Linked DNA regions of Homo sapiens. The protein of the gene in region 5 purifies or fractionates together with the protein of the main gene of each other region. This does not show direct contact. Each region holds a gene or a part of one and is shown on either strand. Other genes may lie near its edges. The genes, in order: LMAN1, ZMYM1, PC, CUX1, CLSTN2, NUP37 and SLC12A7.

Evidence for each region.
Region 1: the proteins of CLSTN2 (region 5) and LMAN1 purify together in Homo sapiens (affinity purification with mass spectrometry; one large-scale study listed by BioGRID and IntAct). This does not show direct contact.
Region 2: the proteins of CLSTN2 (region 5) and ZMYM1 purify together in Homo sapiens (affinity purification with mass spectrometry; one large-scale study listed by BioGRID and IntAct). This does not show direct contact.
Region 3: the proteins of CLSTN2 (region 5) and PC fractionate together in Homo sapiens (co-fractionation; one large-scale study listed by BioGRID). This does not show direct contact.
Region 4: the proteins of CLSTN2 (region 5) and CUX1 purify together in Homo sapiens (affinity purification with mass spectrometry, with the first as the bait; one large-scale study listed by BioGRID). This does not show direct contact.
Region 6: the proteins of CLSTN2 (region 5) and NUP37 purify together in Homo sapiens (affinity purification with mass spectrometry; one large-scale study listed by BioGRID and IntAct). This does not show direct contact.
Region 7: the proteins of CLSTN2 (region 5) and SLC12A7 purify together in Homo sapiens (affinity purification with mass spectrometry; one large-scale study listed by BioGRID and IntAct). This does not show direct contact.

What each region holds. Positions count from the first base shown.
Region 1 is NC_000018.10:59,356,084-59,360,682, forward strand, and holds the start of LMAN1 (protein ERGIC-53 precursor), read right to left. Parts: upstream 3,183-4,599; 5' UTR 3,162-3,182; coding exon 2,948-3,161; intron 1-2,947. UniProt on the Homo sapiens protein: Mannose-specific lectin. May recognize sugar residues of glycoproteins, glycolipids, or glycosylphosphatidyl inositol anchors and may be involved in the sorting or recycling of proteins, lipids, or both.
Region 2 is NC_000001.11:35,103,141-35,107,267, forward strand, and holds part of ZMYM1 (zinc finger MYM-type protein 1), read left to right. Parts: intron 1-1,154; coding exon 1,155-1,329; intron 1,330-1,416; coding exon 1,417-1,629; intron 1,630-4,127.
Region 3 is NC_000011.10:66,871,384-66,875,510, forward strand, and holds part of PC (pyruvate carboxylase, mitochondrial precursor), read right to left. Parts: intron 777-4,127; coding exon 641-776; intron 489-640; coding exon 304-488; intron 98-303; coding exon 1-97. UniProt on the Homo sapiens protein: Pyruvate carboxylase catalyzes a 2-step reaction, involving the ATP-dependent carboxylation of the covalently attached biotin in the first step and the transfer of the carboxyl group to pyruvate in the second.
Region 4 is NC_000007.14:101,820,434-101,824,560, reverse strand, and holds part of CUX1 (Homeobox protein cut-like 1), read right to left. Parts: intron 1-4,127. UniProt on the Homo sapiens protein: May be involved in intra-Golgi retrograde transport.
Region 5 is NC_000003.12:139,933,649-139,938,390, reverse strand, and holds the start of CLSTN2 (calsyntenin-2 precursor), read right to left. Parts: upstream 3,207-4,742; 5' UTR 3,017-3,206; coding exon 2,908-3,016; intron 1-2,907. UniProt on the Homo sapiens protein: Postsynaptic adhesion molecule that binds to presynaptic neurexins to mediate synapse formation, and which is involved in learning and memory.
Region 6 is NC_000012.12:102,096,115-102,099,614, forward strand, and holds part of NUP37 (nucleoporin Nup37), read right to left. Parts: intron 3,087-3,500; coding exon 2,992-3,086; intron 1-2,991. UniProt on the Homo sapiens protein: Component of the Nup107-160 subcomplex of the nuclear pore complex (NPC). The Nup107-160 subcomplex is required for the assembly of a functional NPC.
Region 7 is NC_000005.10:1,105,106-1,109,232, reverse strand, and holds part of SLC12A7 (solute carrier family 12 member 7), read left to right. Parts: intron 1-1,247; exon of another isoform or gene 1,248-1,739; intron 1,740-3,603; exon of another isoform or gene 3,604-3,675; coding exon of another isoform or gene 3,676-3,790; intron 3,791-4,127. UniProt on the Homo sapiens protein: Mediates electroneutral potassium-chloride cotransport when activated by cell swelling. May mediate K(+) uptake into Deiters' cells in the cochlea and contribute to K(+) recycling in the inner ear.

The DNA.
Region 1 (4,599 bases), on a different chromosome or scaffold from region 5:
GTGTGACTTTGAGCAAATAATTCTCTTATTCTCTTGGATTCACCATATGTTTACCTGTAAAATGAAGGAGCTAGGCTCGATCACTTCCATAAACACCCTAAAAGTTATATGCAAAATACTGTACTTATATACATTCTTCCATGGAGAGGGTCAACTGAACTTCAAAAAGCAATTCTTCAGAAGATTCTCAGAGAAAATAGTGATCCCTAAAACGGTGGTTTACATCTCCAGGCTAGGTTCAAGCCCCAGCTCTACTACTTACTAGCTGTTTGATCTGTAGGCAAGTTACTCCATTTCTTGAACAGCCTCATAGGTATTTAAGTGCCTACACAAGTAGCTTTAAATGTTTCAATAAATGTTAGCTATTTCTCCTATTATTAGACTAGGTAATTACTAAAGGTCTATCAGACTTAAAATTTGAACAATTCTAGCTCTCAGATATTAACTAATTCTGAAACCCATGCTGGGAAATACAACTGTAACTGTAATCTCACTTTACAGGTAGAAAAAAGTTGACAAAAAGGAAAGCTGAGATACTTTAGTAGGATCAGTCACTGTTCACTGTTACTTACAAACATTCAAAGGATGGGGTGTGGGCATCATGGAAAGAGACTGAACACAGAATCAGAAGACCTAGATTTGAGTTCAACTTCACTGACACTTACTACTTATGTATCCTTTTTCAAAAACCTTAACCTTTCTGAACATCAGTTTTTCATCTATAAAACAGATAACACCCGCCTTGTCTACTAAGGATCAAATCAGAGAATGAAAGTGAAAGAACTCTGAGAGCTATAAAGGGTTACAAATTATCATTTTTTGCCCTTATGGCCTTAAGTGTACTAAAGGAACATTAGAGTTAAGAAAGAGAAACACCATAGATTTGGTCTTAATTTGGGGTTGAAGGTAAAGGGCTGTGTTTAAACTAGATCTTAAATTTCTCTACTTTTTTTTTAAAGTAATGAATTGCAGAGCAAAACGAAAAGAAAAAAATGATCAATGTAGTTACAGTGAGGCTTATGCAAAAACTACAGTGACAATGAAAGCAAGGGATGTCTATAGCAGAGATTCCCAGAGCCAGTAGCCAGATAAATCATGGCTAAAATACTAATACTTTGTTTCAAATTCATTCTAGCCACACGGCTTTAATTTACTGGTACATTATCTTGACATTTCTGCAGCAGAATAGATTAGTTGGTTCCGGCTCTGTAAAGGAAGTCAAGGTAGCTGATTTGACTAGTTGATTAACATTCCTAATTGGCTAATGTAGTGTATGTGAGTGTGAGAAAAAGAGAAAAGGGATAGAAGAACAGGCAGGCAGTGGAGAGGTGTAGAAGTGAAAATGTGTGAACAAATCCATCACTACTGAATAATTCATCATCCCACAAATAGAAACAAAAACTCCAAAAACTTGTGTTTGATATCATTTGCATCACCTTTGTGTATCAAGAATAGAGATACCTTGATAACAAATGCCCAGTAATATACCCTTGCTGCATGGGCACATAATAAATGACTGCTGAGTAACGAAATAACTGCACTCTACTTCAACTACTTAATGACTTGGTCATTAAGTCAAATTAAAATCTATACCTTTCAATTACACATTAATTTGAGAGAAATAGCGCTTCCTAAAAGGGTGCTTCCTATTCAGTAATTACTTTCTAGAAATGAAACATTTTGTTTCAAGAACTGGATAATCTAAAGTGATGTATAAAAACCTTATATAAAAGATTACTTATGGGGGAGGTGGGAGGGATAGCATTAGGAGATATACCTAATGTTAAATGACTAGTTAATGGGTGCAGCACACCAACATGGCAAATGTATACATACTAACCAACCTGCACGTTGTGCACATGTACCCTAAACCTTATAGTAAAAAAAAAAAAAAAAAAAAAGATTAATCACACACAAAGATAGAATTCAAACTGCCAGAGCTCCTCATCTCATATAAAGGCATTTGCCACTTGTTCAACGGGTATATCTGATGGTCACTGAACAGAGCTTATGTCATGCCAAGTGCTACGATTGACTCCTTAGTCAGCAGTGACACATCAGCACTAAAAAGTGCAGATATGTTTTCTTTCACGTAAGTAAATGCTCTAGCAAGGCTCTCTTATCTACAAAAGTGCCAAACACAGAGAGTGAATAAAATATGAACCCAAGATTATTTCAATGCTTCCAATTTTTTTAAAGGGCTAAAAATGTAATGCTATTCTTAGTCTCAGGTTCAGAAACAATCAATCCCTAAAAATATATCCCTTCTCCTAAAAAGTTACATAATGTGTTACTACGAGAGAAAAGATCAAAGACCACACCAAGTCACTGAGAGGAAAATGTGTAGTTCCAACAGTATAAGAATGTCTTCTGACATACAAAGACTTAAAAAATTACTCTAATACTACTATATGCCATCTCAGGAGCCGTCAGTGGGCATGGGGTTCAAGCGAAGCATTAACCATTGCTAACACCGGAGCAAAGAAATCGGGGATCGGGGGTGGGGGGTGGAAGCGGGAAAGGAAGTAAGGGGGCTTCTAGAACATGTCTCAGGTTGGGATGGCTGGGGGTAGGGCACATTTCTCCTAGAGACGTGGCGTTGTGAAACATGATACCTAGAAGCAAGTTTGAGTGCTAGGAAGTGTAGGAGGTAACCAAACACCTCTAGATCCAACGGAAAGTACCGACGAGATCAAAGAAGGGAAGACAGCAGGCGGGTGAGAGAGAACAGAATGGGTGAGGGAAAGACTCGGGGACAAGCGGAGGGAACCGTGCGAACCAGGAGGGACCCGGCGGAGGGGCTGCCAGGAGGGTCCCCTCCACAGCGCATATGGTGTGCAGCTGCTGGAACGGGAACCTCAGCACACCAGGGTAGCCGCGGATGAAAGGCGAAGAGGCAGCAGAAGGGGGAGAGGAACCCGGCCCCCAGCCCTCTGCTCCGGCTTACTCCCCGCGTGGGCCCAGAAGGGCACGGTCCCGTCGCTCTGCACCAGGTGCGGCCCCTTGAAGCTGTATTTGTACTCGAAACGGCGATGTGGCAACGCGACCGCGGGGTCTCCTCCCACGCCGTCGCCCCGGACGAAGCGACCGAGTGACAGCAGCAAGGCGCAGAACAGCGGCCGAACTCTGGCCCGGAGACCCCTTTGCCTGGATCCCGCCATCTTGGATTCTGGAACGCGGAGGAGGGCGGGAGAGGGAGGGGCGCGGATGGCTGCGGATGGCCAACAGGGCGCTCGCTGATTGGCAGAGCCCGGGGGACCCCCAAGGGCAAGGGGTGAGCCCCGCCCCCGGCCTCCGCTTTCCGCGCGGCCGCACGGCCAGGAGCAGCTGTGGGCGGGGCCACGCGCAGGGGGCGGGTCTGGGGCGGTGCGGTCCTTCGGCCCCGCCCACCCTCCGGGGGTGGGGAAAGGACTCCAACCTTCGCTTCCCGCGCGGCAGAGTGCGGGAAGCGCCGATGGGTCCTTACCTGCAGGGAGCTTTCTCCGGCTTCTTAGAATACCTGGGAGCAGGAATTGGCTAGCCCTAAGACCTCTGGACCCAGCCTGTACAAAACCTTTTTAGTATATTAGAAGAAAGGTGTTCCTTTTGATGTGACATCAGTTTTTCAGTGGCACAATCCCGAATGCTTATGGTCCCAGCCCACTGAGCTCTACCAAGCTATGTTAGAGCGTTGCAAACTAGAAACCAGCACCCACGGGGTTGTAGGATGCCTTAGGATTTATAAGTTGGTGTCGGAAAGAGGGTTTCTGTGAATTTGTCAGCCAGCCTTTACATCTCAAAATTTAATTCCAAGAGCTTTCCAAATTTTGAAACCATGGCAAGAGTGCATTCAAATGAAACTGACTTTGGTTTGGTTTGGTTTTGGTGAGAGGGATAATGTGCTATGGACCCAGGCGTCTGTAGAACCTGGACATTTGATATAGGATCGGTCTTCCACTCAATGAATACGTTCTATATTTTAAAGGGGACTCCTCTTTCCCTTGCTTAGGAAAAAATATCGTCAAAATATTCATGGTAATCCAAAGTTTTGTTTTTTCAAAAATGTGTCATGATGAGTTTTTCAAGTCCAAGAAACAGCAGTATGATTTATATTGTTTTTACACATGGCTTTTTATTAGCTCTGTTCGTGTGGGCTACATGAACGCCACACTAGCCCTAGGGACTCAATACCCGCATTACTTAAACTTATTTTTCATTAACTTCCCAGTTTTGGAAGTTGAATCCCATCTTCGGATTCATGGGCCATTACTGTTAAATCTCTTTCTAGTGCTCAAATAAAACCTTCAAGTTGAATATGGATTTAAGGCTTTCCGCCTGCTAGTCTCGAGATGTAATTTAAATGAAAGTACCATACTTACTGCTATCTCAGCAGCAGCAGTAACAAACATTTATCCACTGTATGGTGTATGTGCGTCATTGCCCTGGACTCTCCATGGTTTTCAACCCATAGGATTTAATCATTTTATTTTCTTTGGTTCTCTCATTGCTCTGGCAACCAGCTCTATGCCTTGCACAGAGTGAAGATTCCATAAATATTTGTTAAACAAACATTAATGTTATAAAAATGGCAAACACTTACTGAGTGCTTTCTGTGTGTAA
Region 2 (4,127 bases), on a different chromosome or scaffold from region 5:
CCATTTCATTGGCATTTAGTATATTCATAATGTTGTGTGACCATCCCCTCTATCTTGTTCCAAAACATTTCCATCACTTCAAAGTAAAACACCTTAAACACTAAGCAGTTTCTCCTAATTTCCCTCTCCCCCCAGTGCCTGTCAACCACCAGTATGCATTATATCTATAGATTTTATCTATCCTGAATATCTCATGTAAATGGAATCATATATGACCTTTTTGTGACAGGGTATTATTACTCTGTTGCTCAGGCTAGAGTGCAGTGACTTTTTGTGTCTGGTTCTTTCCCTTAGCATAATATTTTCAAGGTTTGTCCATGTTGTAACATGTATCAGTACTTTATTCTTTTTGTTAATAGGCGAATAATATTCCACTGTATGTATGTAACACAATGTGCTTATTCATTCATTCACTTACTGATGAACATTTGGGCTGTTTTCATCTTTTGACCATTGTGAATAGTGCTGTTATGAATATGCACGTACATGTGCTTGTTTGAGTACCTGTTTTCAGTTTTTTTGGGTGTTTACCAAGGAGTGGGATTGCAGGGTCCTACCATTAGCTTTGCAACATCAGTTGCAAAGTGATGTTGCAAACATCAACACGGTGAAAAAGCAAATAACATCTTACTATGAAAATAGTTTTGATCTTGGGGACTCCCCCAGGGATTTGAAGACCATATTTTAAGATTCTCTGTCCTATAGATTCTAGAGTTGCTCATGTGAATATGTGATCTCTCATCATCCCTCGGTTTTCACTAGCACCACCTAATAATACAGGCTGGCTAGTCTCCAAAACTACATCTTCAAAGTCAGGCATGGTGGGATTATGTGCCTGTAATCCTAGCTATGTGGGAGATTGAGGTGGGAGAATCTCTTGAGCCCAGGAATTTGAGGCCAGCTTGGGCAACACAGCAAGACCCTATCTCTTAAAAAACAAAACTGCACTATTAGATGTGCTTTATAATCTGTAATGTATAGATGAGAAAATTAAAATTTAGGGAGTATAAATGTGACAGAACTGGGTACCAAATTCAGGTTTTCTTATTTCAAGGCTAATGTTCTTACTCTAATTTGAGAGGTCATTTCATTTATAAAGAGAAGTTATAATTGTGTTTAAACTGTTTAATGATGTCCTTGTTATTTATTCTTAGAGACATTTTAAATCCAAAGGATGTGATTAGTGTCCAGCTGGAAGACACTACCTCTTGCAAAACTTTTTGCAGCCTATCTTGTCTTTCATCATATGAAGAAAAAAGAAAACCATTTGTTACCATATGTACTAATAGCATTTTGACCAAGTGCAGCATGTGCCAGAAGACTGCTATTGTAAGTTCCAATTATAACCTTTACAGGGATTCTGATGATTCTGCTTAAATATCAGAGTTTTTACTGAATCTTTTTATTAAATCCTAGATTCAGTATGAAGTAAAATACCAAAATGTGAAACATAATCTTTGCAGTAATGCCTGCCTTTCAAAGTTTCACTCTGCTAACAACTTCATCATGAACTGCTGTGAGAACTGTGGCACTTACTGTTACACCAGCTCTAGTCTGTCCCACATACTTCAGATGGAAGGACAGTCTCATTACTTTAATAGTTCAAAGAGTATTACAGCATATAAGCAGGTATGAATAAAGACCTATTGTTTCTTCTATTAACTGGCCTATGAATGGTTTCACTCTAGGAAAATGTGGGAAGTAGTTTTTGGTACCCTTTGGAATAATGTCGATAAGTTGATGAAGATGAAATAGAAGGCTTTTAACGGTTTCTTCTTGCATAAGAATTCATGATAAATGCTATATGGAGATTTTCCTAAATAATCTCAGATCGATTATCTCACCTTAAAGAAAAGGCAGGCAGGCTGGAGCCGGTTTATAAACTAGAAATAAGTATAGCAAAAATAACAATAGTCTGCTGGTCAATAAAACCCAAACACAAAAGTATTTTTGTTTTTATTTTTATGTATTTATTTTATTTCTTTCTTTTTTTTTTTTTTTTTTTTTTTGGTGAGATGGAGTCTTCCTCTGTCACCCAGGCTGGAGTGCGGTGGCGCGATCTCGGCTCACTGCAAGTTCTGCCTCGCGGGTTCATGCCATTCTCCTGCCTCGGCCTCCCAAGTAGCTGGGACTACAAGCACCCGCCACCACCACGCCTGGCTAATTTTTTGTATTTTAAGTAGAGATGGGGTTTCACTGTGTTAGCCAGGATGGTCTCAATCTCCTGACCTCGTGATCCACCTGCCTTGGCCTCCCAAAGTGCTGGGATTACAGGCATGAACCACCACACCTGACCTTATTTATTTTTTTTGAGACGGAGTCTCGCTGTCTTGCCCAGGCTGGAGTGCAGTGGCACAATCTTGGCTCACTGCAACCTCCGCCTCCCAGGTTCAAGCAATTCTCCTGCCTCAGCCTCCCAAGGAACTGGGATTACAGGCGTAAGCCACTGTGCCCAGCTATTTATTTTTTTTATTTATTTTGATTTTTTTGAGACGAGGTCTTTGTCAGCCAGCTTGGAGTGCAGTGGCAATCATGGCTCACTGTAGCCTTGACCTCCTTAGCTCAAGTGATCCTCCCACCTCAGCGTCCCGAGTAGCTGGAACTACAGGCACACACCACCACACCTGGCTAATTTTTAATTTTTTTGTAGAGACAAGCTCTTACTATGTTGCCCAAGCTTGTCTTACAACTCCTGAACTCAGCTGATCCTCCTGCCTTGGTCTCCTAAGGTGCTGGGATTACAGATGTGAGCCTAGCCATGTTTTTGTTTTTAATTCCACGTGTTTAACTCTTACACCAAACAATGCAAAGATGAATCAAGAATGTCACATGTGGACAGTCATGGTGGCTTACACCTGTTATCTCAGCACTTTGGGAGACCAAGGCGGGAGGTTCAGTTGAGCCAGGAGTTCAGAACCAGCCTGAGCAACATAGCAAGAACCTGTCTTTAAAAAAACAAACAAAAAATATCACATGCTTTCTCTGAGTCAGTCATAGGAGGAAATAATCCAGTGAGATTAGTATTATTTGTCCCTATTTCTGATAGACAAGCTCTGGGTGGGTGCTTCTGAGAGCAGAGAAAGAGCAAATGAGATGAGGTGGGACTTCTTAGATATGTTGCTTGTTCATATCATATTTTGAGACCCAACTCTATCCCTATACAGACTTCCTTAAAAACAAGCAGTTGGCCGGGTGCAGTGGCTGATGCCTATAATCCCAGCACTTTGGGAGGCCGAGGCTGGCCGATCACCTGAGGTCAGGAGTTGGAGACCAGCCTGGCCAACATGGCGAAAACCCGCCTCTACTAAGAATACCAAAATTAGCTGGGCATGGTGGCAGGCGCCTATAATCCCAACTACTTGGGAGGCTGAGGCAGGAAAATCTCTTGAACCCGGGAGGTGGAGGTTGCAGTGAGCCGAGATGGCACCATTGCACTCCAGCCTAGGCGACAGAGTGAGACTCCGTCTCAAAAAAAAAAAAAAAAAAAAAAAGCAGTTGAAGATGGGAGTCAAAACAAGCCATAATTCAAATAGATCATTTGTGACTCACATCTTTTCTATGGCCCCCATCTTGAGAGTATCCTGCCTTGGGACCAGAACGGAAAGCACAGAAGACTTCTCCCAAAGGCAGGAAATAATATTCCTTTTTTTTTCTTTCTTTCTTTTTGACACTCAATAGGCCTTGTTCTGGGTTGTTTTTTGTTGTTGTTGTTGTTGTTGTTTGTTTTTTGAGACGGAGTCTCGCTCTGTCGCCCAGGCTGGAGTGCAGTGGCGCAATCTCAGCTCACTGCAAGCTCCGCCTCGCGGGTTCACGCCATTCTCGTATCTCAGCCTCGCGAGCAGCTGGGACTACAGGTGCCCACCACCACGTCTGGCTAATTTTTTGTATTTTTAGTAGAGACAGGGTTTCACCGTGTTAGCCAGGATGGTCTCAATCTCCTGACCTCGTGATCCGCCCGCCTCGGCCTCCCAAAGTGCTGGGATTACAGGTGTGAGCCACCGCGCCTGGCCGGCCTTGTTCTGTTTTTAAAAGCCTATATGCCGGGCACGGTGGGTCACGCCTGTAATCCCAGCACTTTGGGAGGCTGAGGCGGGTGGATCACGAGGTCAGGAGATCGAGACCATCCT
Region 3 (4,127 bases), on a different chromosome or scaffold from region 5:
CAATAAACCGGACCCCTGCATCCTGGCAGGCCTGGGCGAAGTCCGCTCGCTCAGAGAGGAACCCGTAGCCAGGGTGCACTGCATCTACGTTGTTCTCCTGCAGGTGGGGGTCAGGGAGAGGACGGTACCTTGCAGTCCCTTCCAAGGCCTCGGCCAGCCTCTTCCCCTGCCTAACCTGCTGAGCTGCATCCGTTTACCCACCCACGCACAGAGGCGCTGAGCACGCCAGCCTCAAGAGACCCCCGCGGCAACTAAGACTCCCTGGTCCCTGCTGTCCAGGCCCAGCCAGGCCACTGGGCTCACCTTGGCCACCTTGATGATGTCTGGGATGTGCAGGTAGGCCTGCACGGGGGCCAGGCCGCGGCCGATGAGATAGGCTTCATCTGCTTTCTGCCGGTGCATCTGGCCCGTGTCCTGCTCAGAGTAGATGGCTACGGTGCGGATGCCCAGCTCCGTGCAGGCCCGGAACACACGGATGGCAATCTCACCTAGAGGGCAAAGAAACAAGAAGTTAGATTCCTAGGTCCTAGGAGAAGCAGAAAGGGGAGTGGGAAGCCAGGGCCTGGGGCAGTGAGTGGGAGAAGAATGCCAAGGCTGGGGCGGCCATGAGGCTCCTCTCACCGGCCCCACTGGTGCTCACCTCTGTTGGCCACCATGACTTTCTTGATGGGCTTATACTCCAGGCGCCGGACATTTGGGGAGGCAGCGGGGGCGGTGGAGGTTCGGCGGATTCCCAGGAGCCTCAGGCCCCCATGGACTGTTCGGAACTTCAGCATCTAGGGAGGGAAGTTAGAGCCCAGGTTAGCGCAGCCTCAGCACTGAGGCTCCTCAGAATGAGTGAGGGCCCTTCCCAACCCCACAGTGGCCCCACAGAAAGGCTAGCACCATCTACCTCCTGATGCCTGGCCAAGCCCAACATTTCCTGGCTCTAGAGAAGGGAGCAAATCCAACCCCAAATGGAACCCCCAGCTCAGCCTGATATCCTAACTGTGACTTTATTGTTGTAGAGACAGGGTCTCCCTATGTTGCCTAGGCTGGTCGCAAATGATCCTCCCACCTCAGCCTCCTGAGTAGTTAAGACTACAGGTGTGAGCTGCCGTACCCAGCATAATATGCACTATAACTTTTAAAAGTATCAGGTTGGCCCACCCTGGCTAACACGGTGAAACCCCGTCTCTACTAAAAATACAAAAAAAAAAAAATTAGCCGGGCGTGGTGGCGGGCATCTGTAGTCCCAGCTACTTGGGAGGCTGAGGCAGGAGAATGGCATGAACCCAGGAGGCAGAGCTTGCAGCGAGCCGAGATCGTGCCACTGTACTCCAGCCTGGGCGACAGGGCAAGACTCCGTCTCAAAAAAAATAAAAGTATCAGGTTGGGCGCGGTGGCTCATGCCTGTAATCCCAGCACTTTGGGAGGCTGAAGTGGGAGGAGCACCTTACATCAGGAGTTCGAGACCAGCCTGGCCAACATGGTGAAACCCCGCCTCTTACTAAAAATATAAAAATTAGCCGGGCATGGTGGCACACGCCTGTAATTCTAGCTACTCAGGAGGCTGAGGCACGAGAATCGCTTGAACCTAGAAGACAGAGGTTGCAGTGAGCTGAGATTGCGCCACTGCCCTCAGCCTGGGTGACATCAAGACTCTGTCCCAGGAAAAAAAAAAAGTATAATACTTCAGGTTGGGCACGGTGGCTCACACCTGTAAACCCAGCACTTTGGGAGGCCAAGGCACATTTGTGTGAGCTCAAGAGTTTGAAACCCACCTGGGCAACATGGTGAAACCCTGTCTCTACAGAAAATATAAAACTTAGCCAGGCATGGTGGCACATGCCTGTAATCCCAGCTACTTGGGAGGGTGAGGCATGAGAATCACTTGAGCCTGGGAGGTGGAGGTTGCAGTGAGCTGAGATGGCACCACTGTACCAGTCTGGGTGACACAGCAAGACTCCATCTTTAAAAAATATATATATATTATATATAATATATTATATATAAAATATAAAATATTATATATAATATAATATAAATATATATAATATATTATATATATTATATATTATATTATATATAAAATATATATTATATATAATATAATATATAATATTATATATATTATATAATATTATATATTATATTATATATTATAATATATATTATATATAATATTATAATATTATATAATATTATATATATATTTAAATCAACTGACGACAACTTATATCCCTGAATGCAAAGAGGCTTCAGAGGTTGGCCAGCCCTTCATTTGTAAAATGAAGGAAACCAAGGTACAGTGGAGACTAAAAAGACAGCTGCCCAGCACAGAGCCCAAGCCAAACCAGACACACTCTTTTCACCCCTGCATCTGGGCCTCATCTAACCATCTGATTCATTTCTTTCTTTTGAGACGGAGTCTCGCTCTTGTTGCCCAGGCTGGAGTGCAATGGCATGATCTCTGCTCACTGTAACCTCTGCCTCCCAGGTTCAGGCAATTCTCCTGCCTCAGCCTCCCAAGTAGCTGGGATTATAGGCATGCACCACCATGCCTGGCTAATTTTGTTTTTGTTTTGTTTCTTTTCTTTTTTCTTTTTTTTTTTGAGACAGAGTCTTGCTCTGTCACCCAGGCTGGAGCGCAATGGTGCGATCTCGGCTCACTGCAACCTCCGCCTCCTGGGTTCGAGTGATTCTCCTGCCTCAGCCTCCCGAGTAGCTGGAATTACAGGCACCCGCCACCACGCCCAGCTAATTTTTGTATTTTTAGTAGAGACAGGGTTTCACCATCTTGGCCAGGCTGGCCTCGACCTCCTGACCTCAGGCGATCCACCTGCCTTGGCCTCCCAAAGTGCTGGGATTACAGGTGTGAACCACCACGCCTGGCTGTATTTTAAATAAAGATGGGGTTTCACCATGTTGGCCAGGCTGGTCTTGAACTCCTGACCTCAAGTGGTCTACCCGCCTCGGCCTCACAAAGTGCTAGCATTACAGGTGTGAGCCACCACACCCGGCCGATCTGATTCATTTCTTAGAAAACGTTTAAAACACTTGACTCAGCCATTTTGTTTTAAGTAAGGAACATAAAAACATACTCAAGAAATGAAACAAATATTGCAAAAACCTTAGTGCCATATTACAGCCAACAACCTAGAAAAGGGGAAATAAAGACAGAAGAAAAAGAAAAGAGAAGAAACAAGGAAATAAGTAGAAGAAAGAGAAGAGGAGGAGGAGGAAAGACCCACAGCCAGGGGAGAAAAACAGAAAACCCCACTAGGGGCAGACCTTATGCCAGGCACAGTTCTAAGCCTTAGGAGTCGAGAACACAACAGTGAAGGGTTCTGCTCATGGAAGATGAATGGCAGTGAAAGGAGCAAAGAAAAGAAAAACAAGACACAAATCAGAACATTTCAGATCACAAGTGCCTGGAAGATAAGAAACAGGTGACATTTTGCGAATGATCTGGGGCGGGTGCAGGGGTTTGGGGGCTGGATATTAGAAAAGGCCTCTCTGAGGAGGGGACACAGAAGCTGGGACCTGGATGGGGAGAAGTCGGCCACGCACAGATCCGCAGAGAAAGCTCCAGGAAGAAGGGATAGCAATTGTGAAGTTCTCAGGAAGAACAGGCTTGGTGCTGTCCTGAGAGAGGGAAGTGTGAGCCCACGGCCTGAGGTGGGGCTGCAGCCACAGACAGGGCCCAGTGGTTGAGGCCTCCCTTCAGCCATGGACAGGACAGGAGGGACATGATCGATGCACAGTGGAAAGGATCTCTCTGGACTGGCGAGCAGCAGGGGCTGACAGACGACGCATGTCTGGGGCAATTCAGAGGCTGAGCTGAGAGACGCGGAGCCTCTGACAGGGGGAAGCTATGGGGGTCGGGGTGGGGCTTAGGAAACATCTGGGCTATGACAGACAAGATTCGTCGAGAGACCCCCCATAGAAAGCAAGGTAGAGGAAGAAATCCTGTATGGGTGGGTGGAGATGACTTTTCCTGCTATAAGAAGGGCAAGACAGAAAAGGCAGGGCTGGGAGTGAGGCAAGCTCACAGAGGGGGAAGAGCAGGGACAAGAACCTGGGCAGCATCACAGGGGCGGTGGTGTCTGAAGCCAGGGAGAGAACAGCCTGGGAGAAGTGGGTCA
Region 4 (4,127 bases), on a different chromosome or scaffold from region 5:
AGGCTCTTCAAGACAAAGATTTACCTTTGGTATCATCTGCTACCTTTTATCAAATTATTTTTTATCTAAATAATCATTTCTTCCCTAGAAACAGGAGGGGAAAGTGGTAATAAGCCAGAGAAACTTACAGGCCCAAAACAACAACTCAACAAAGGTGTCTAAAAAGAGTGGAGGCCAGGCACGGCGGCTCACACCTGTAATCCCACCACTTTGGGAGGCCGAAGGGGGTGGATTGCTTGAGGTCAGGAGTTTGAAACCAGCCTGGCCAACATGGTGAAACCCTGTCTCTACTAAAAACACAAAAATTAGCTGGGCGTGGTGGTGCACACCTGTAATCACAGCTACTCGGGGGGGCTGAGGCACGAGAATCACTTGAACCTGGGAGGTGGAGGTTGCGGTGAGCGGAGTTTGTGCCACTGCACTCCAGGCTGGGCGACAGAGTGAGACTCCGTCTCAAAAAATAAAATAAAAAGAGTTGATATTCGTTCTGTCTTAAAGATATTAAACTATGTTAGAGAAAACAAAATCATGGCAATTCATTAGGGAGAAAGCCCCAGTTTAAGAAAAATTGTCTTGCTTTTGGGGGGAAATGGAAAGAAGCTTTTGTGTTGCATTTTGTTTTTCGGTTTGGTTTGGTTTGGTTTTTTCATATGCTGGGTGGACAGGATCTGAATGTCTTACATTTAACAAAAAGCTGTCAACACCCAGATAAATTTTTAATGACGGTACGACAGGCATTCTATTTCTCACTGTTTCGCAATACTCACTTAAGAAAGAGCTAATTTGTCAATTTGTTTTTCCCTTAACCAAACTCGGAACACCTCATAACCCATGGTTTACTTGTTAAAAAAATGTTAACTGCATTTCCTTATTGAATAAACACAGCCCAATAGAAAGGTATCTATAAGAAAACAAGCAGTGTGCCAGCATCCACTCAAAGTAACCCCAAGAAAGAACAAGCCACTTCCCTGGTGTCTCAGAGTAAGCTCTGTTAATTTCCTGCTTTGTTAACTGCATCAATCACACACGGTCAAGACCATCCAGACCATCCAAGATCTCAAGCTTCGGCTGATGGAGTCGGCCAGGGCCCGGTCCACTCTGGGGGGTCGTGTGCTTTATAAAGGTTCGGACCCCTTATTGGGCTCATTTTCACAAAGGTTTTCATGAAAGGAAGCAGAACCAAGTCAGTTTCACTTACTAGGAAACTCCCGGCTGGCTAGTTCTTGAGTTGCTGGCAGTGTTAGTAAATCCCTAGGAGGAACACCACCATCCTTGGCTCCGTTCCAGTCACCTGTGTGATTATGTTTCTCTGTGTAGGAAGACCCCTGAGGGTGGGATCTGTACCAGTCCTGCTTGTGGGGTCAGCCAGGGATTGGGCGACGAACTTTGTGGCCACAGTACCTGCACTTCCCATGGCCCGAGGCTCTAATCAACACAAAATTTCTGCCAACGGTCCTGGGCCTCCTGCAGTTAGGAAATGCCGTTGGATTAAAATAAAGAAATTGACAATCTTTATTTTGTGCACTAACATCATCCTCTCTGAATTTAATTACAACAAAATTAAAATTATTTTTATTAGAGAGGCATTAGCTTTTTAAAGGGAAGGTTCTTGACAGGTTTTACAACAAATTAGATGTCTTTTTTTTTTTTTTTTCTGAGACAGAGTCTCGCTCTGTCACCCAGGCTGCATGCAGAGCAGTCACACGATCTCAGCTCACTGCAACCTCCACCTCCTGGGCTCAAGCAATTCTCATGCCTCAGCCTGCCGAGTATCTGGGATTATGGATATGCGCCACCACGCCAGGCTAATTTTTGTATTTTTAGTAGAGATGAGGTTTTGCCATGTTGGCCAGGCTGGTCTCGAACTTCTGACCTCAAGTGATCTGCCTGCCTTGGCCTCCCAAAGTGCTGGGATTACAGGCATGAGCCACCGTGCCCGGCCTTAGACGTCTTTCGAAAAGAATGGTTCACCCTCACTGTGTAATACCCGAATAGGGCAGCACAAATGCTTTTTAAAAATCTTTTAAGTCACAAGCCAGGTGCTTCAAAGCTGTTTCAGGCGCAGGACAAATGAGGGGAACGGCACAGGTTCCCCTCAGTCCTGGTTCATTTCCTGCAGGGAAACCTCCATCCCCGCCAAAGACCACTCTCCTCCATCAACCTTCTCAGAAGACAGCAGAGAAGCTGGACTGATTACAGCTCAGCAAATCCAAAACTGCTCCATACCAAACCTTAGCTGTCCTCAGCAGGAAAATCCAACACTGACACACCATCGAAACTTGGTTCTGAAACACATCCCAAAACCAGGGTGATCGACAGCTTTTCAAGACCACGCCTTGAAAACTGGAATGGGTCAAATAACACAGTCAATCCAGAGGGCCCTGCCATTAATATTTAAGAAAACATCGGCCGGGCACGGTGGCTCACGCCTGTAATCCCAGCACTTTGGGAGGCCGAGGCGGGCAGATCACGAGGTCAGGAGATCGAGACCATCCTGGCTAACACAGTGAAACCTCGTCTCAACTAAAAATAGAAAAAATTAGCCGGGCGTGGTGGCGGGCGCCTGTAGTCCCAGCTACTCCGGAGGCTGAGGCAGGAGAATGGCGTGAACCCGGGAGGCTCAGCTTGCAGTGAGCCGAGATCGCGCCACTGCACTCCAGCCTGGGCCACAGAACCAGACTACATCTCAAAAAAAAAAAAAAACAAAAAAACAAAAAAACTAGCCAGGCATGGTGGCGGGCGCCTATCGTCCCAGCTACTCGGGAGACTAAGGAAGGAGAATGGCCTGAACCCTGGAGGCGGAGCTTGCAGTGAGCCGAGATCGCACCACTGCACTCCAGCCTGGGCGACAGAACCACGTCTCAAAAAAAAAAAAAAAAAAAAAAAAAAGAAAAAAGAAAAAAAGAAAAGAAAAGAAAATAGGGGCCGGGCACGGTGGCTCACGCCTGTAATCCCAGCACTTCGGGAGGCCAAGGCGGGCGGATCACTAAGTGAGGAGATCGAGACCATCCGGGCTAACACGGTGAAACCCCGTCTCTACTAAAAATACAAAAAATTAGCCAGGCCTGGTGGCCAGCGCCTGTAGTCCCAGCTACTCGGGAGGCTGAGGCAGGAGAATGGTGTGAACCCGGGAGGCGGAGTTTGCAGTGAGCTGAGATAGTGCCTCTGCACTCCGGCCTGGGCGAAAGAGCGAGACTCTGTCTCAAAAAAAAAAAAAAAGAAAGAAAATATCCCCCTCACCAAGTTAATACTTTTATGGTTGCTGGTGGAGCTTATATTCTCTAAATGTAGAATTTTTTTGGGGGCGGGGGGGAGTATCTTCTCTCTGAATTCTATATCATTATTGGGGTATAATAAAATGTACCTACATGCTCTGGTCAGTCAAGGTTCATCAAGTCAGAAATCACAAATGAATTCACAAATTCTTTGCTCTAAAGTCATATAACAATGCAGATATTAAATTGCTTGTCTAACTATACCATTAGATTCCTTTTTCACTCCATTATCGGCACACACACACACTTCTCTCGGCATCCAGGCATTCACAGGTATCCAGTTCCTAAAGCGCCCAGCACGACTGCTTTGTCCAGGTAAGCAACAGTGGGACATAAGGAGAGGCTGTGGGGCCCCTCTTCAAATAGCTTCGACAAAACGAATGGCTATAAGTGAAAAGTGTCCCTGGGCTTTGCTATAAAAAGACTCAAACATGGGATTCCAAGAATTCCACCTGTTTCCAATTAGATACCAGAATTGCTTGAGTGTTTAAGCTACACTCGCTTGCTACTTACACAAAACAATTCTTCCGGGTTTTGTGAACATTTTAAATATGTTAAAATAAGATTAAGGGTCTGGTTTAAACAATCGGAGGCAGGGAAATTTCGGTGGAAACCAAAACTCTCTCTCTGCAGCGATAACGCGGGGCTTCAGACAAAACAAAAGGACAAGACAGACAAATTTCTGTCTTTGACAATTATAATAAAAGTCACTTTTCATAGAGCAATTACATTTTTTAAAGTTATGTATTCAATAATTTTAAATAGGTCTTAAGTAATTTCTACAATAACTCACGATCCTGGATCCTGTATATTTGAATAATGGTTAGAGTTGCCTTTTACATACCATTTGTG
Region 5 (4,742 bases):
CAAGAAGCAAGAAGCAAGAAGCACAAAGGCAGAACAAGCTGTGCACCACAGACACAACATCTTACACAAGACTGAAGCTGGGAGCACATGCTTCCAGACAGTTGTTTGGAGGGTGCATTCAACTCTGTCAGAAAGCTTGACTCCAGACTCCCAGTGTTTTTCTACACATGAATACAGAATTGTACGAAAGAAGTATCTGGTTTTTTGTTCAATCTTCACACGCCTTCCTGATTTTTTTTTTTTTTTTTTTGTGATGGGAATAACAATGGTATGAACCTTAAAAATGGCAAAGTCAGAGGCAGGGTGCATTATACACAAAACATACAGCTTTATCATTTCAAACATTCTTCAGAGATCATATGATTTGGAAACATAAAATGCAAGTGCATTGTTATAAGGAAAGTCAGTCCTGTAAATACTAACTAAAGTGTCATAATAAATGTCTCTGTTGTAATCAAATATTACACATTTATCTTGAAAAAAAAATCAGCAGCAAACAGAGCTCTTTGCAGCCCCCCAGTGGTTGGAAGGGGAAAGAAGCGAGAACAAGGGGAATTCGGACAGTTAACTCTCAATCTGCAGGGCCAATAAACTTTTTACCCTGGAAAAACAAATGTCTAGTTTGTTTGTTTGTTTGTTTGTTTTTGAGACGGAGTTTCATTCTTGTTGCCCAGGCTGGAGTGTAATAGCGCGATCTCGGCTCATTGAAACCTCTGCCTCCCGGGTTCAAGTGATTCTCCTGCCTCAGCCTCCCGAGTAGCTGGGATTACAGGTGCGTGTCACCACACCCATCTAATTTTTTTTTTTTTTTTTTTTAGTAGAGACGGGGTTTCTCCATGTTGGTCAGGCTGGTCTCGAACCCCTAACCTCAGGTGATCCGCCCGCCTCGGCCTCCCAAAGTGCTGGGATTACAGGCATGAGCCACCATGCCCGACCTGACAAATGCCTAGTTTTAACCAAAAAATGAATATGTTCTAAGTCGGATGTTGGTTAAAATGCACATAATTATCCACATAAAGTGAATCATTGAAAGCCTGGGGTTTTTATTTTCCTTTTTTATCTCTCTCCTTCTCTTTCTCGCTTACCTCTATGAAGCTTCCCATTCTGACCTGAGAACTCAGCCGTGCATTATTACTACTCACACCAGATCCTCTTCCCAAATGATTTCTTCCCTGTTCTGCACTTGCTGTGTGCTTCTCACCCTCCTTCAAACTCCCGTTTGCAGACATCTGCTTATATCAATTACTGTGCTACAAAGTGATGGGAAATCTCCTCCCCCCCACCCCCCAAAAAAGTAATTTGCCTGTTTAACAAAGTGTCTATATTGGGAAAGCAGGGGGGAGATGTTTGGAAGTTCATTGTTTTTTATTCTTGTCTTCACCAAAACAACAGTCTCTCAGCTTGATCCCTTCATATCAGCCACTTCTTTACCGCACTCTGAGATATTTTCATAACGAGTTTTTCTCTCATGAAATTTCTCATTTCTAAAAATAGAAACTGCCTGTCAAAGATACACCAAGAAAAAAAATGCTGAAAAGAAACAGAATGCCTGCTTATAAAATATTTTCAAAACGATGACACCAAAAAATTTAAAAATTACAGATAAACATAATCTCCCATGTTCTTCTCAAATATATCACTCCTAAGTTATTGGAGGGCCAGTTTCTAAAGCCCAGACAAGGCGAACTGCCTGCCTCCAGCTCTCCCCAACCTCCAAGAGTAATGCAGCCTGATAGGCATTTCCTCCCCTAAGCTAGTGGTCAAGTGTAGCTCAAAGCAAGCGTCCGAATCAGGCTGTCTCTAACAGGGAATCTATTTTCTGACAGGCGCAAACCCCTCCGCCCTCTGATGATTGCCAGGCAGGATTTGGGGACCAAGTACCCCTCATTGTCACCTGGCGGATTTGGCCACAGTCCACAAACCAAACGCAAGCCCTACTTATGAACAGCGCAGAGAATCAACAAGTTATCACTAAGCTGTGCGCCCCAGCTAGGATCTGCCACAGCCTCCCCTGAGCCCACCACTGTTCCCCACCAGCTCTGCTCTTCCCTCGCCTCCCCACCCCCTGCAAGCACGTGACCTCCTGTTTCAGACCCGGCCCCCCACCCCAGAGCTCCCGACGCTCCCAGGCAGCTGTCAAAGTCCGGGGTTCGCCGGCTTCCAGGCTCGCCTGACAGAGCCAGGCGTTCGCTTGGATCTAGCTTCCTTCCGGGCGGGAGGCGCGGGGAGGTCAAGCTCTTCAAAGGAACAGGGTGGGCAGGGGAGTGGTGCCAGGTTAGGCTCCTCGGTCCTCGGTAGTCAGAGCGGAGTAGGAAAGGCAGCGGGGAGCCTCACATCCCGCGCTTCTTCCGGACCCCGCCGCCTACCCGGAGGGTACACGTTCCCCGGGGAGTCAGAGACGCCCTGGGGGAGCTTGAGGAGTGTCAGCGGGGCCTTCCCTGGAGCCTACAAGTTTCCACTCCATCCCCGAGCTGGGAGACAAGTCACAGCTCGGCTCCCTCCTTGAAAGCACCGCCGCTGATCCTTCCCCCAGGCAGGAGCAGACACCTGCTTGTCCCCACGGCGCGCCAGCGCCCTGCTCTAGCCGTCCCTGGGCCAGAGCTCGAAACTCACCCACTGCGCTCCCACCCCGGCACAGACAGCCCTCAAAGTTGTCCGTACTCCCCAGACCTCGCCTTCTGCTCAGCCCCCGGACCCCGCCCAGGGGTTGAGTTGACGTCCGCGGGTGGACCTCTCTGGTCCGCTGCGCAGGGAACTGACTTCGGGAATCCAGGGCGCACAGAGGCCAAAGAAGCTGCGGCAAGGGAGGGTGGGCAAATCCAGCTTGAGCCTAGGTCCTTGCCGCTTTCACCCTCAAGCCTGCCCTGCCTCCCTCCTGGGAGAAGAGCAAACTTCCCCAGCACCCACCTTTAGCCGCGAGGAGGCGGCGCTGCCGGCTGTCCCCGCCACCGCCGCTGCCGCTCCCCACGCCCAGCGCCAGCAGGAGCGGCACCCAGCACAGCCGCCCAGGCAGCATCCTCGCAGCAGCCGCCAACGAGCTGCAGCCGCCGCCTACTGTCCGCGCCGGCTCTCGCCTCCCGGTGCCTGCCGCACCGTGGGCCGCCTCGCCGTGCCCGATGGGTGCGCTTCTAGCGCTGCCGCCGCGGCGCTCGGCCTCGGGTTCCCGCCGCTGCGCCGCTAGCTCGCCGGCAGCAGCCGCGCTCACTGGCGCGGACCCGGAGCGGCTCAGGCGCTCACCCCGGGACGGCCCGTGACGTCACGGAGGGAGGGAGGTGGCTCGTGCATATTCATGAACGCGGGCATCGGCGCCGGGTTCCGCGCTCCCCGCCCCAAGGCCCCGACCCCCAACTTTCCTCAGCCGTCTCCACGCTCCGGGGCCCTGTCCAGGTCCCCCTGCCCAGTCGGGACCGGGCCCCCAGAGGACCCTGGTGGGCGGCTCCGGAGAGCCCTCCAGCCCCGCGCCTCCACTCCGACTCTCGGAAAAGCTGCCGCAAGGGATGGAGGGCTCCCCCAGAAAGTGGCCACCCGAGGCCTGAGGGTCATCTGGGGTGGCGCGAGGGACCCTGACCTGCCATGCCCTTTGAACTGATATCTGGGCGGAGAGGACTGACGGGCGTCGCTAAGGGTCTTGCCCTTGGCTGGGTCTCTGGGCGTTCTGCGTCGACTGGTCTGGGGAGGGCGCCAGGCGCACACTAGAGCAGCGCCTAGTGGTGCTAGGGGTTGTCGGGCAGAGTAGATAGCCTTGGACCTGGATGGCAATGGCAGGGCTCCGCGTCATCTCCGAGAAGCAGGGGCAGCCGCGGCTCTTAGAGGCTGATAGAACAGCTAGATCAGAAAACTTGGGGTGCTGGGCCTGCTGAGGCTGCAGTGGCGGGGGCGGGGTGTCAAACTTAAAATTCCCTGCGGTATGGTGCCATGCAAGAAGTTGCCACCTTTATGTTGTCACTCCGCATCTCTAAGAACAGGCTACTTGACGTCATGCATTGTAAAATCTCGTGCCGTTGAGTATTGTCAGTTCCCTGAGTGCAGGAGCCAGTGCATATCTTTGCATCCTCAACCATCTCTAGGCCGTGAAAAAATTACAAAGGTACTCAAAAAAAAAAAAAAAAAAAACAGTAAGGACTCAGAATAAATCCTTGACCATATTTACCTAAATGAAATGCCAACATCACACACAATGCAGGGTTTATGAGGAATAGTTTGGAAATAAAGTAGATATGGAAATACAGAAACAAACAATATTATTTATTTAGTCATTGATTCAAGACGTTTGCTGAGCATCTAGACAGGCTGTATCACCCTGACAGTGAGCACTGGATTAGTCGTTGGAGATCCAAAGACAGAGGAGAGAGTGGGTCCTATCCTCAAAGCTTTTGTTCCCTGCTTGGGGAGCCAGAGAGGGCAGCAAAGGCAATTACAATCCCTTGTAAGTGTTATGGTCCTGCACATTCTTTATGTTGCTAGCTATGAGCCTATACAAATCAATTAACAAAATGTATATATTGCAAGAGTGCCTAAACAGCATCCTCTAATTAATAACTGTAGTTTGAGGTACTCAACAAAGCCATAAAATCCATTAACAGCACTCCTGCAGCTCAGCCTCCCTCTGCTGCCCTGGCAGCTCACTCAGAGCCTCTGCAGTGGTGAAAGCCAACTCTTCAGGATTTCAGGCACCAGGATGTGCTTGGGGACAGCAGTGAATCATGGTGGCTGCATGGGGCTCAGACCCATGTGGGGCTCTT
Region 6 (3,500 bases), on a different chromosome or scaffold from region 5:
GATAATAATTTTCTGTACTTATATATTTGGAAGGCTACATTTTCTGTGAGTTTCATTTAAAAAGGTGTGGTAGGCATTATAAAATGTTTGTTAGAAAGGCAGTGTTGGAACTGATAAAGACCAACTTTAATGAGAACCCAATTTTCTTATAAACTTGCACAGATCATAGAATAGTAAAATTAGATGGAGTCTTAGATAAAATGTAATCTATCATCTTCCATAATAACATTTTGTATTATCAGAGGTACCTTTGTTCACAGTACGACTCTTTATTCTGTTTGATTCAGAATTTGGCAATTTTCAATACAACACATACATTTCATGAACCTATTCAGGTCACAGATTGTTTTAAAATAGTGTTCCTAGGGCAAAATTCTGCTAGCTGATTATAATATAGTGTCTTTCTTGGAAATGTCAAAGTGAAACATCAGAAAATATGCATAGATCAAAATATTGAGGTTATTTTAAATTTTCTTAAGTAAGCACTGGGTCTGCTCTTTACAGTACAGAATACATATTGTAGAACTGCTCATATGATATACTCTCTTGTCACATATGTGATAATGTAAGAATATATATGTGATATTGTAAGAATCTTACATTATCACATATGTCCTCTTAGAATTCCTTCTTTCCTTGCTATGAGAGTGTATGATACTATCTACTCTTTCTCATTTTAAACTTGTTTTTATATACGTTCTGTTTTTAAAAAAATCTTACCTATATTGCTTAGGTTTTGGCCTAAGAGGTTTGGCTTTAATAACCAATCAGAGTTGTTTATTTTTGGTTGGTGAACTAAGCTGTAAATTCTAAAAATACTCCTAGTTTGATGTTGTGCATCAACCCGAAAATCTCGGTGGTTTACAGAAATAAGCATAAATTTCTTGCACATGGGTCTATGGGAAGCTCTGTTTCCATAATGCCATATGGGTCCATATCTGCTCCACGTGTTTCTCATTCTGGGATCAGTAGCTATCTAGGACATGCTCATCTCATAGCAAATGACAGAGCACAGGAGGTCAAGTCAAGCCAGGCAAAACATTTGAAGCTTCTGCTGTGTCACACCTGTTAATGCTACATTGGCCTAAACAATTCACAAAGCTAGGGCTAATTAGATGGGAAAATCTCCTTTCATGGGAAGGTGAAAGGAAAGCAAATATTTGTTGAACAATAATATCAACAACCAGTCTGGCAAAATGAGAAACTTAGAGGCAATGTAGTCAGGTTTTTAAAAAATTAAATTTATTTAAACTAAAAGACTTACTCTTTAGTTATTCCTTTCCTACTTTTTAGAGTAATAATGTCCTTTCTTTTACAAAATGATAGTGGTAGAAGGCAGTAAACTTAAGTCTTATATTCGACAAAATAAAAAGTTAGCAACCCTATGTCAGTCCCCTAAATTTTTAGAGAATTTTGCTAGTTTACAAAAAAAATCTCAGAGTCATAAGAAAACAAACAAACAAAAACATAGACTACTGAGTGTGATCCTAGGTCTCTCCGGCTTTCGTTCACTATTCAGAGGCCATTCCTTGGCTTGCAAAGACACTCATTTTTCCCCTTTGCAGGTTTCATTATTCCAAATGCTTGTGATTAGGAAAATCTATGTTTTAAAGAGCTGAAATGCCATTATTTATTTCCAGTGACCGAATTTTTACCTTAAAACGATTCCATTTACTCTTCAGGTCACTATACAAACTTGGTTTTGTAGTACCTGGGGCCCTAGAATCTTAATGTCATGTAAATCTTTCATATCTCTGACATGAAAATTTTAACAGGCAGTACATAAAGAATAATGGCCTATGACTCTATCACTTTAAAAAGATGAGCTATATTAAGAAGATTAAAAATTTAAAAAGTAGCTAGCAGCTTTACTTCTAATGTGAAGTCATACATATTTCATAGTTTTATATGTACATAAGTACTAATAAATACTAAGGATTTTGGCATAGTTTTATGAAACATTATGCAAAACAGCAGAGCAGCAGTTTTTCTCTCCCTCACAGTATCGTTAAAGCAAATGAAGCAACTGACACCCTTCCAATGACTGATGCACTCATTTCACTCCTGACTCCTCAGCTTATTTCCACCTGCTATTCTTCCTTTTCATCTTGTTCTTTATTTGTGATATTCTCCAGCTTTACACACTATTAAAATGTTATAGCTACCTCATCTGTTCTAAATTAGGGGGTGAGGTAGAAGAACATAATAGTTAAATGTATTGTATCTAAAGAAAACCTTATGCAGAAACCTCTGAATTTATCAAAACACTAAATTTTCCATCAATCTTATGTAGCAGATGAGAGTCATAGTTCATTATTCCACACAAACTTATCATACAGCATCTGTAAAGTAACTTGACAACTGCATTTTACTCCTACTTATCTTGTCCAATATTGAAGAATTTGATCCAATATGTTTGTGTTTTTTTTTTTTTTGAGATGGAGTGTCGCTATGCCACCCAGGCTGGAGTGCAGTGAAACAAGCTTGACTCACTGCAACCTCAGCCTCCCAGGTTCAAGCGATTCCCTTGCCTCAGTCCCCCGAGTAGCTGGAATCACAAGTGCGCACTACCGTGCCTGGCTAATTTTTGTATGTTTAGTAGAAATGGAGTTTCGCCATGTTGGTCAGGCTGGTCATTAACTCCTGACCTCAGGTGATCTGCCCACCTTGGTCTCCCAAAGAGCTGAGATTATAGGCATGTGGCACTGTGCCCAGTCCAATATAGATTTGGATTTCATAAATGTGAAAATCTGAAATAAGAGATAAAAGACACCCATGGGAGGCAAGGAAGTTTTCATTAATGGTGATGAGGACTATCTCACTGGTTTTGAAACTCATGTTTGTGCCATACCTACAGTTCAAATAAGGTATGCTTCTTTTACAACACTCTATAGAATTTATGTAAAAGTCACATTTTTTTTTCTCATTTTAAAAATGTAATTCTCATTAAAATGGCAATTTAAAAATGTGGTTATAACATAAGCAACATACCTGCAGGTGTGATCGTCACTCACACTTGCAATTTCTTGGCCTTCTTTGGGATCAAACACCAAACCATTAATGAAATCGGTATGGCCCTCTAAAACCTGACAGAAAGAGAAACAGAAAGCTTAGCAAGAAAACAGAAAAATAACCTACAATATTCCTACATAATATTTTTGCTTCACTGCCTTAAAAGCTTTCACTGCCTGTTTTTCTATAAATATTTCTTAAGCAATCCGCTATTTTTAAAGCACGATTTATACACCCACTTTTCTAGAAGGTTTATCTTGGGAAAAAAATTGATCATTCAACACACTATTAGCTTAGTCTTTCTTTTCTAGTATGCATTTCTTACAAAAACACACACACACACACATTTTTATTGTACCTGTCCTCATATCACCTCCTTTCTCACTTATTATATAAAGCCTAAATAAAAATTAGAGCTAGAAAACTTTTTAGGGGTACCGAGGTAGGGTACCTCTAGGCTTTTTACATTATATCTGCTGTTCTGCATA
Region 7 (4,127 bases), on a different chromosome or scaffold from region 5:
CTCGGAGACCCTGGGAGGGGTGGGAAAGGAGGGCTGGCCAGTGCCCCGGCCTGTCTGGAAGGTGCAGCGTGCAGAGCCTCTGTCAAGGTCCCACAGGCCCTGGCCACCCACTGTCTAGGAGGGACTTCCACTCGTCTGGGGCTCCCTGGGCTGGGAGAGGGTGGGTCCTGCCTTGTACCCCCAGGTCTCCCACCCTCAGCTGGGGCTCTCCCAGGTTTGCCGGGAGCTTCTTCCTGGCTTGGGCGCCACTTCCCTCTTTGGGTTCCGTTTCTGAGATTTTCCACTGTGGCTGAGCTCGTGTCGGTTGTCCAGGGGCGGTCCTGCCTCCCTCTGCCCCTGGCCGCTGACAGAGGCCCGGTTGCGTGGTCAGTGGCCTGCCCGTCCCTCCTGCTCCAACTACCTACCGTGTCCGTGTTGGGAGCCCCCTCCCAAAATCTGAGGACAGCTAGAGCTGCCGCTTTGTCCTGGGCCGTCCTCGCCTGTCGGGTGCTGGGTGCCATGCTCTGCACTGCCCTTGGGAATGGCGAGACGGTGCACGCCGGTCGTGCTGATCTGGGGTCCCCTTTGGGGATGCAGGGACTTGGGGGATCACGCATTAGATAGGGGGACCACACACAGAGCGTCCAGGTTCTGTCCTGCCGAGTAGGGACAGAGAGCTCTCGTTGTGCCCAGATTTCAGGAGGGCGTTCCCGACACGGACATGGGAGGCAGTCGGAGCAGGAGGGACAGGCAGGCTGTTGACCCCGCGGCTGTGCCCGGGAGCCCCTGCAGCAGCTGGGCACTGCGTTGCGGGAACGGAAGGTCATGGGTATGTGGTGAGCAGGCAGGGAGGCTACAAGACATGCATTTTGTGTATCGAGTTCCCTTTTTAAAACCAAAGGAAACAAGATACACAGGAACGCCGTGGCTGCTGGGCATCCAGGCCGGGGCCTGTGCTTCCTCCTGCGCCTGACATACTCCCAGGCTGTCTCCCGGCAAGAGGCTCTCCTTAGCAGGCATGCGGTAAAGCATGGTGCTTTAGGTCAGCTGGCCGGGTCCATGTGTGCGGGCACCTATGTGCCTTGTGAGCGTGCAGGTGTATCCACGTGTGAGCCATGTGCTTGCACTGTGTATATGTGCACATATATGTACACACGTGTGCATACATGTGTACTGTGCTCTTGCACAGCTGTGTGCTGTGGGCATGCTCACGTGTGTGTGTGTATGTGTGTGTTTGTATGCTGTGGCAGGTAGAGAGGGGCTGGGGCTTCCTCCACAGCAGAGGGTCACGCGGTGTTGGGTGTTGGGTATCCGTTCCCTCCCCCTGGTCTAGGCCCATCAGTGAGTGGTGAGGGGCTCCCTCTCCTGGTGTGGCCTCGTGTTCAGGTCTGAACCTGCTCCTGGGCCTCTGATCATATGAGGAGACCTTTGCCTCGTGGACTCAGGTTCATGGTTTCCTCTTCTGCAAAGCTCCCCAGGCTTCTCTGAGTGGGCGAGGCCAAACGGATTCCACGGTGGTTTTCTGTCTAGCGTTGGACACCAGATCCCCTTCTTAGAGTGCGTGGCTTTCTCAGTGCCTCTCCCGTGGTCTGGATGGCTGTCGGGAAGGTGGTGCCAAGGGGAGGGCCAGGTGCTCAGGCCTGGGTGCAGGGCGGCTGGTCGGGGCCGAAGTCACACAGGTTTGCTGGGGATCGGTGAATGTCGGAGACCTTGCCAGGTGGTGGCTGGAGTCAAGCAGAGGCACCTGAGGGACCCTGAGGGTGAGTTGGGGGCTGTCCTCCCCTCATGCCCGGCAGTGAGTGGGCCGTGGAGTGAGGCCACCTCTGTCAGGGCCTCTGCCCTTTGGACGTGGGGCCACGTCCTACACAGCTCCCTGGACCTGACCCAGGGATTCCCAGATGGCCCAGGCTCCTGCATGGGGGATGGGTGGCCTTTGTAAAGCACAGAAAGCGACCCAGGTGGGCCTCAATCACTTGAGAGGTTTATTTGCCGAGGTTAAGGCTACGCCTAACACAGAACCACGGGGAACTCCTGTGGTCCGGCTTTTCTTCTCAAAGAAGGCTGAGAACTTGAATATTCAGAGAGTAAAGCGTGAGTATTAGGGGAAGAAAGAAAGAGAAAGAAGAGGGAGGGCAGATAAGAGGCAGGCAGCGTTTGATCAGCGTTCACTGAACCCGTGTGTTACACATGGGGGTAAAGGAAGAACCCCTCACGGCTCACGCTTAGTGACTCTGCACATTTACCTTCGACACAGTCAGTACAGGGTGGGCGAAGCAGTGAGGTGTGCGTTTGCCTCCGGCGAGCAGAGCAGCAACTCCTGGTTCTGTCCTTGGTCCCACACCCGTGAGGATGAGCTGTCATTTCCACCGTCAGTGTGAGTTTCATCACAACTGCTTTAGTGTAAGGATCCTGTGGGTCCTAAAATATGAGGGAGGCCTGCAGCTTTCTACACAGGAAGAAAATGGAAGGCAGCTTGCGTGACCCGGTTCCCAGCCTGACTCTTGCCTGTGGCTTAGTGTGTTTGGGTCCCGAGATCCTGTTTTCCTTTCATACCTTGGACCAGGGAGCCTTCCCAGGGCTGCTGTCCTTGGGCACTGCAGACACATCCCGACGTGGCACCGCTGGGCACAGCACTGGGAGTGGAGGTCAGCCCAGGGTGACCCCCCAGCTGTGAAGGGCACGAGTGGAGCCGACACCCCAGGGATGGATGGCGTCTGTGAGGCCAGCTGGCTGCCCGGAGGGCTCTCCTGTTACCATCCCTGTTGGAATATGAATTTTCTTTTTTTTTTTTTTTTTTTTTTTGAGACAGAGTTCACTCTGTCACCCAGGCTGGAGTGCAGTGGCACAGACTCAGCTCACTGCAACCTCTGCCTCCCAGGTTCAAGCGATTCTCGTGCCTCAGCCTCCCGAGTAGCGGGGACCACAGGCACGCACCACCGCGCCTGGCTAAGTTTTATATTTATAGTGCAGATGGGGTTTTGCCATGTTGGCCAAGCTGGTTTTGAACTCCTGGCCTCTAGTGGTCTGCCCACTTCGGCCTCCCGGAGTGCTGGGATTACAGGAGTGAGCCACCATATCTGGCCAGAATATGAATTTTCTAAGCTGTGCCTTAGACCGAGGTCTGGAGGGCAAAGTTTGATGTTTGACGTTAAGTATTAACCACAGTTCCTGGCTGGGTGCTTTTGATTTCAACCGGCTCCATCAGCTGAGTGTTTCTGAGGGTGGATCCCAGAGTCATTTTGTGACGGCCGTGTGGTGGGTGGGGCAGGAGTCCCTGGGTGCTGGGGAGTGTGAGGCCCGCCAGGGCCTTGAGGGGTAGACCTCCCCCTCCCACTGTGGGGCATGGGAACCCCGTGGAGCCCAGTGGGGCTGGGCGTGGACGGCATTCAGGAGTGGACCAGCTGGTCTTCAGGGCAGTGGGCTGGGCTGGGGGTGTCTGGGGCCTGGTGAGCAGCTGGCTGGGGGCCCTCCTGGTAACTGACATGGGGGGCTGGTCTCCTTTGGCCTTCCTTCTCAGATGCTGGGGAAGTGCTGCCCAGGGACAAGGGCAGAGCACAAAGGGTTAATACCTTTCCTTTATGAAGAAAGGGGAAACTCCCTTTTGGGGGCAGAGGCCTGTTCTGTGCAGATAAACCTCTGGCTTCAGCGCAGCAGCCTGAACGATGAGCTCCTGAACGATGAGCTGCCTGGCTGGCCATGCTGTCCAGGCCCTGCCTCTTCCCCTGTTTGTGGCCGCTGACTCCCCAAGGGTCCTGGAGCCTCTGGCCGGGAGTGCCGGGGGGCAGGCCCACGGCAGGGTCCCCTTTGGCTGGTGGGTGACTGCAGGACCTCATCCCTGTGGGGAGGGTCCTTTTGGCTGGTGGGCGACTGCAGGACCTCATCCCTGCAGGGAGGGTCCCCTTTGGCTGGTGGGTGACTGCAGGACCTCATCCCTGCGGGGAGGGTCCTTTTGACTGGTGGGTGACTGCAGGACCTAACCCCTGCGGGGAGGGTTCCCTTTGGCTGGTGGGTGACTGCAGGACCTCATCCCTGCGGGGAGGGTCCCCTTTGGCTGGTGGGTGACTGCAGGACCTCATCCCTGCGGGGAGGGTCCTTTTGACTGGTGGGTGACTGCAGGACCTCATCCCTGCGGGGAGGGTCCCCTTTGG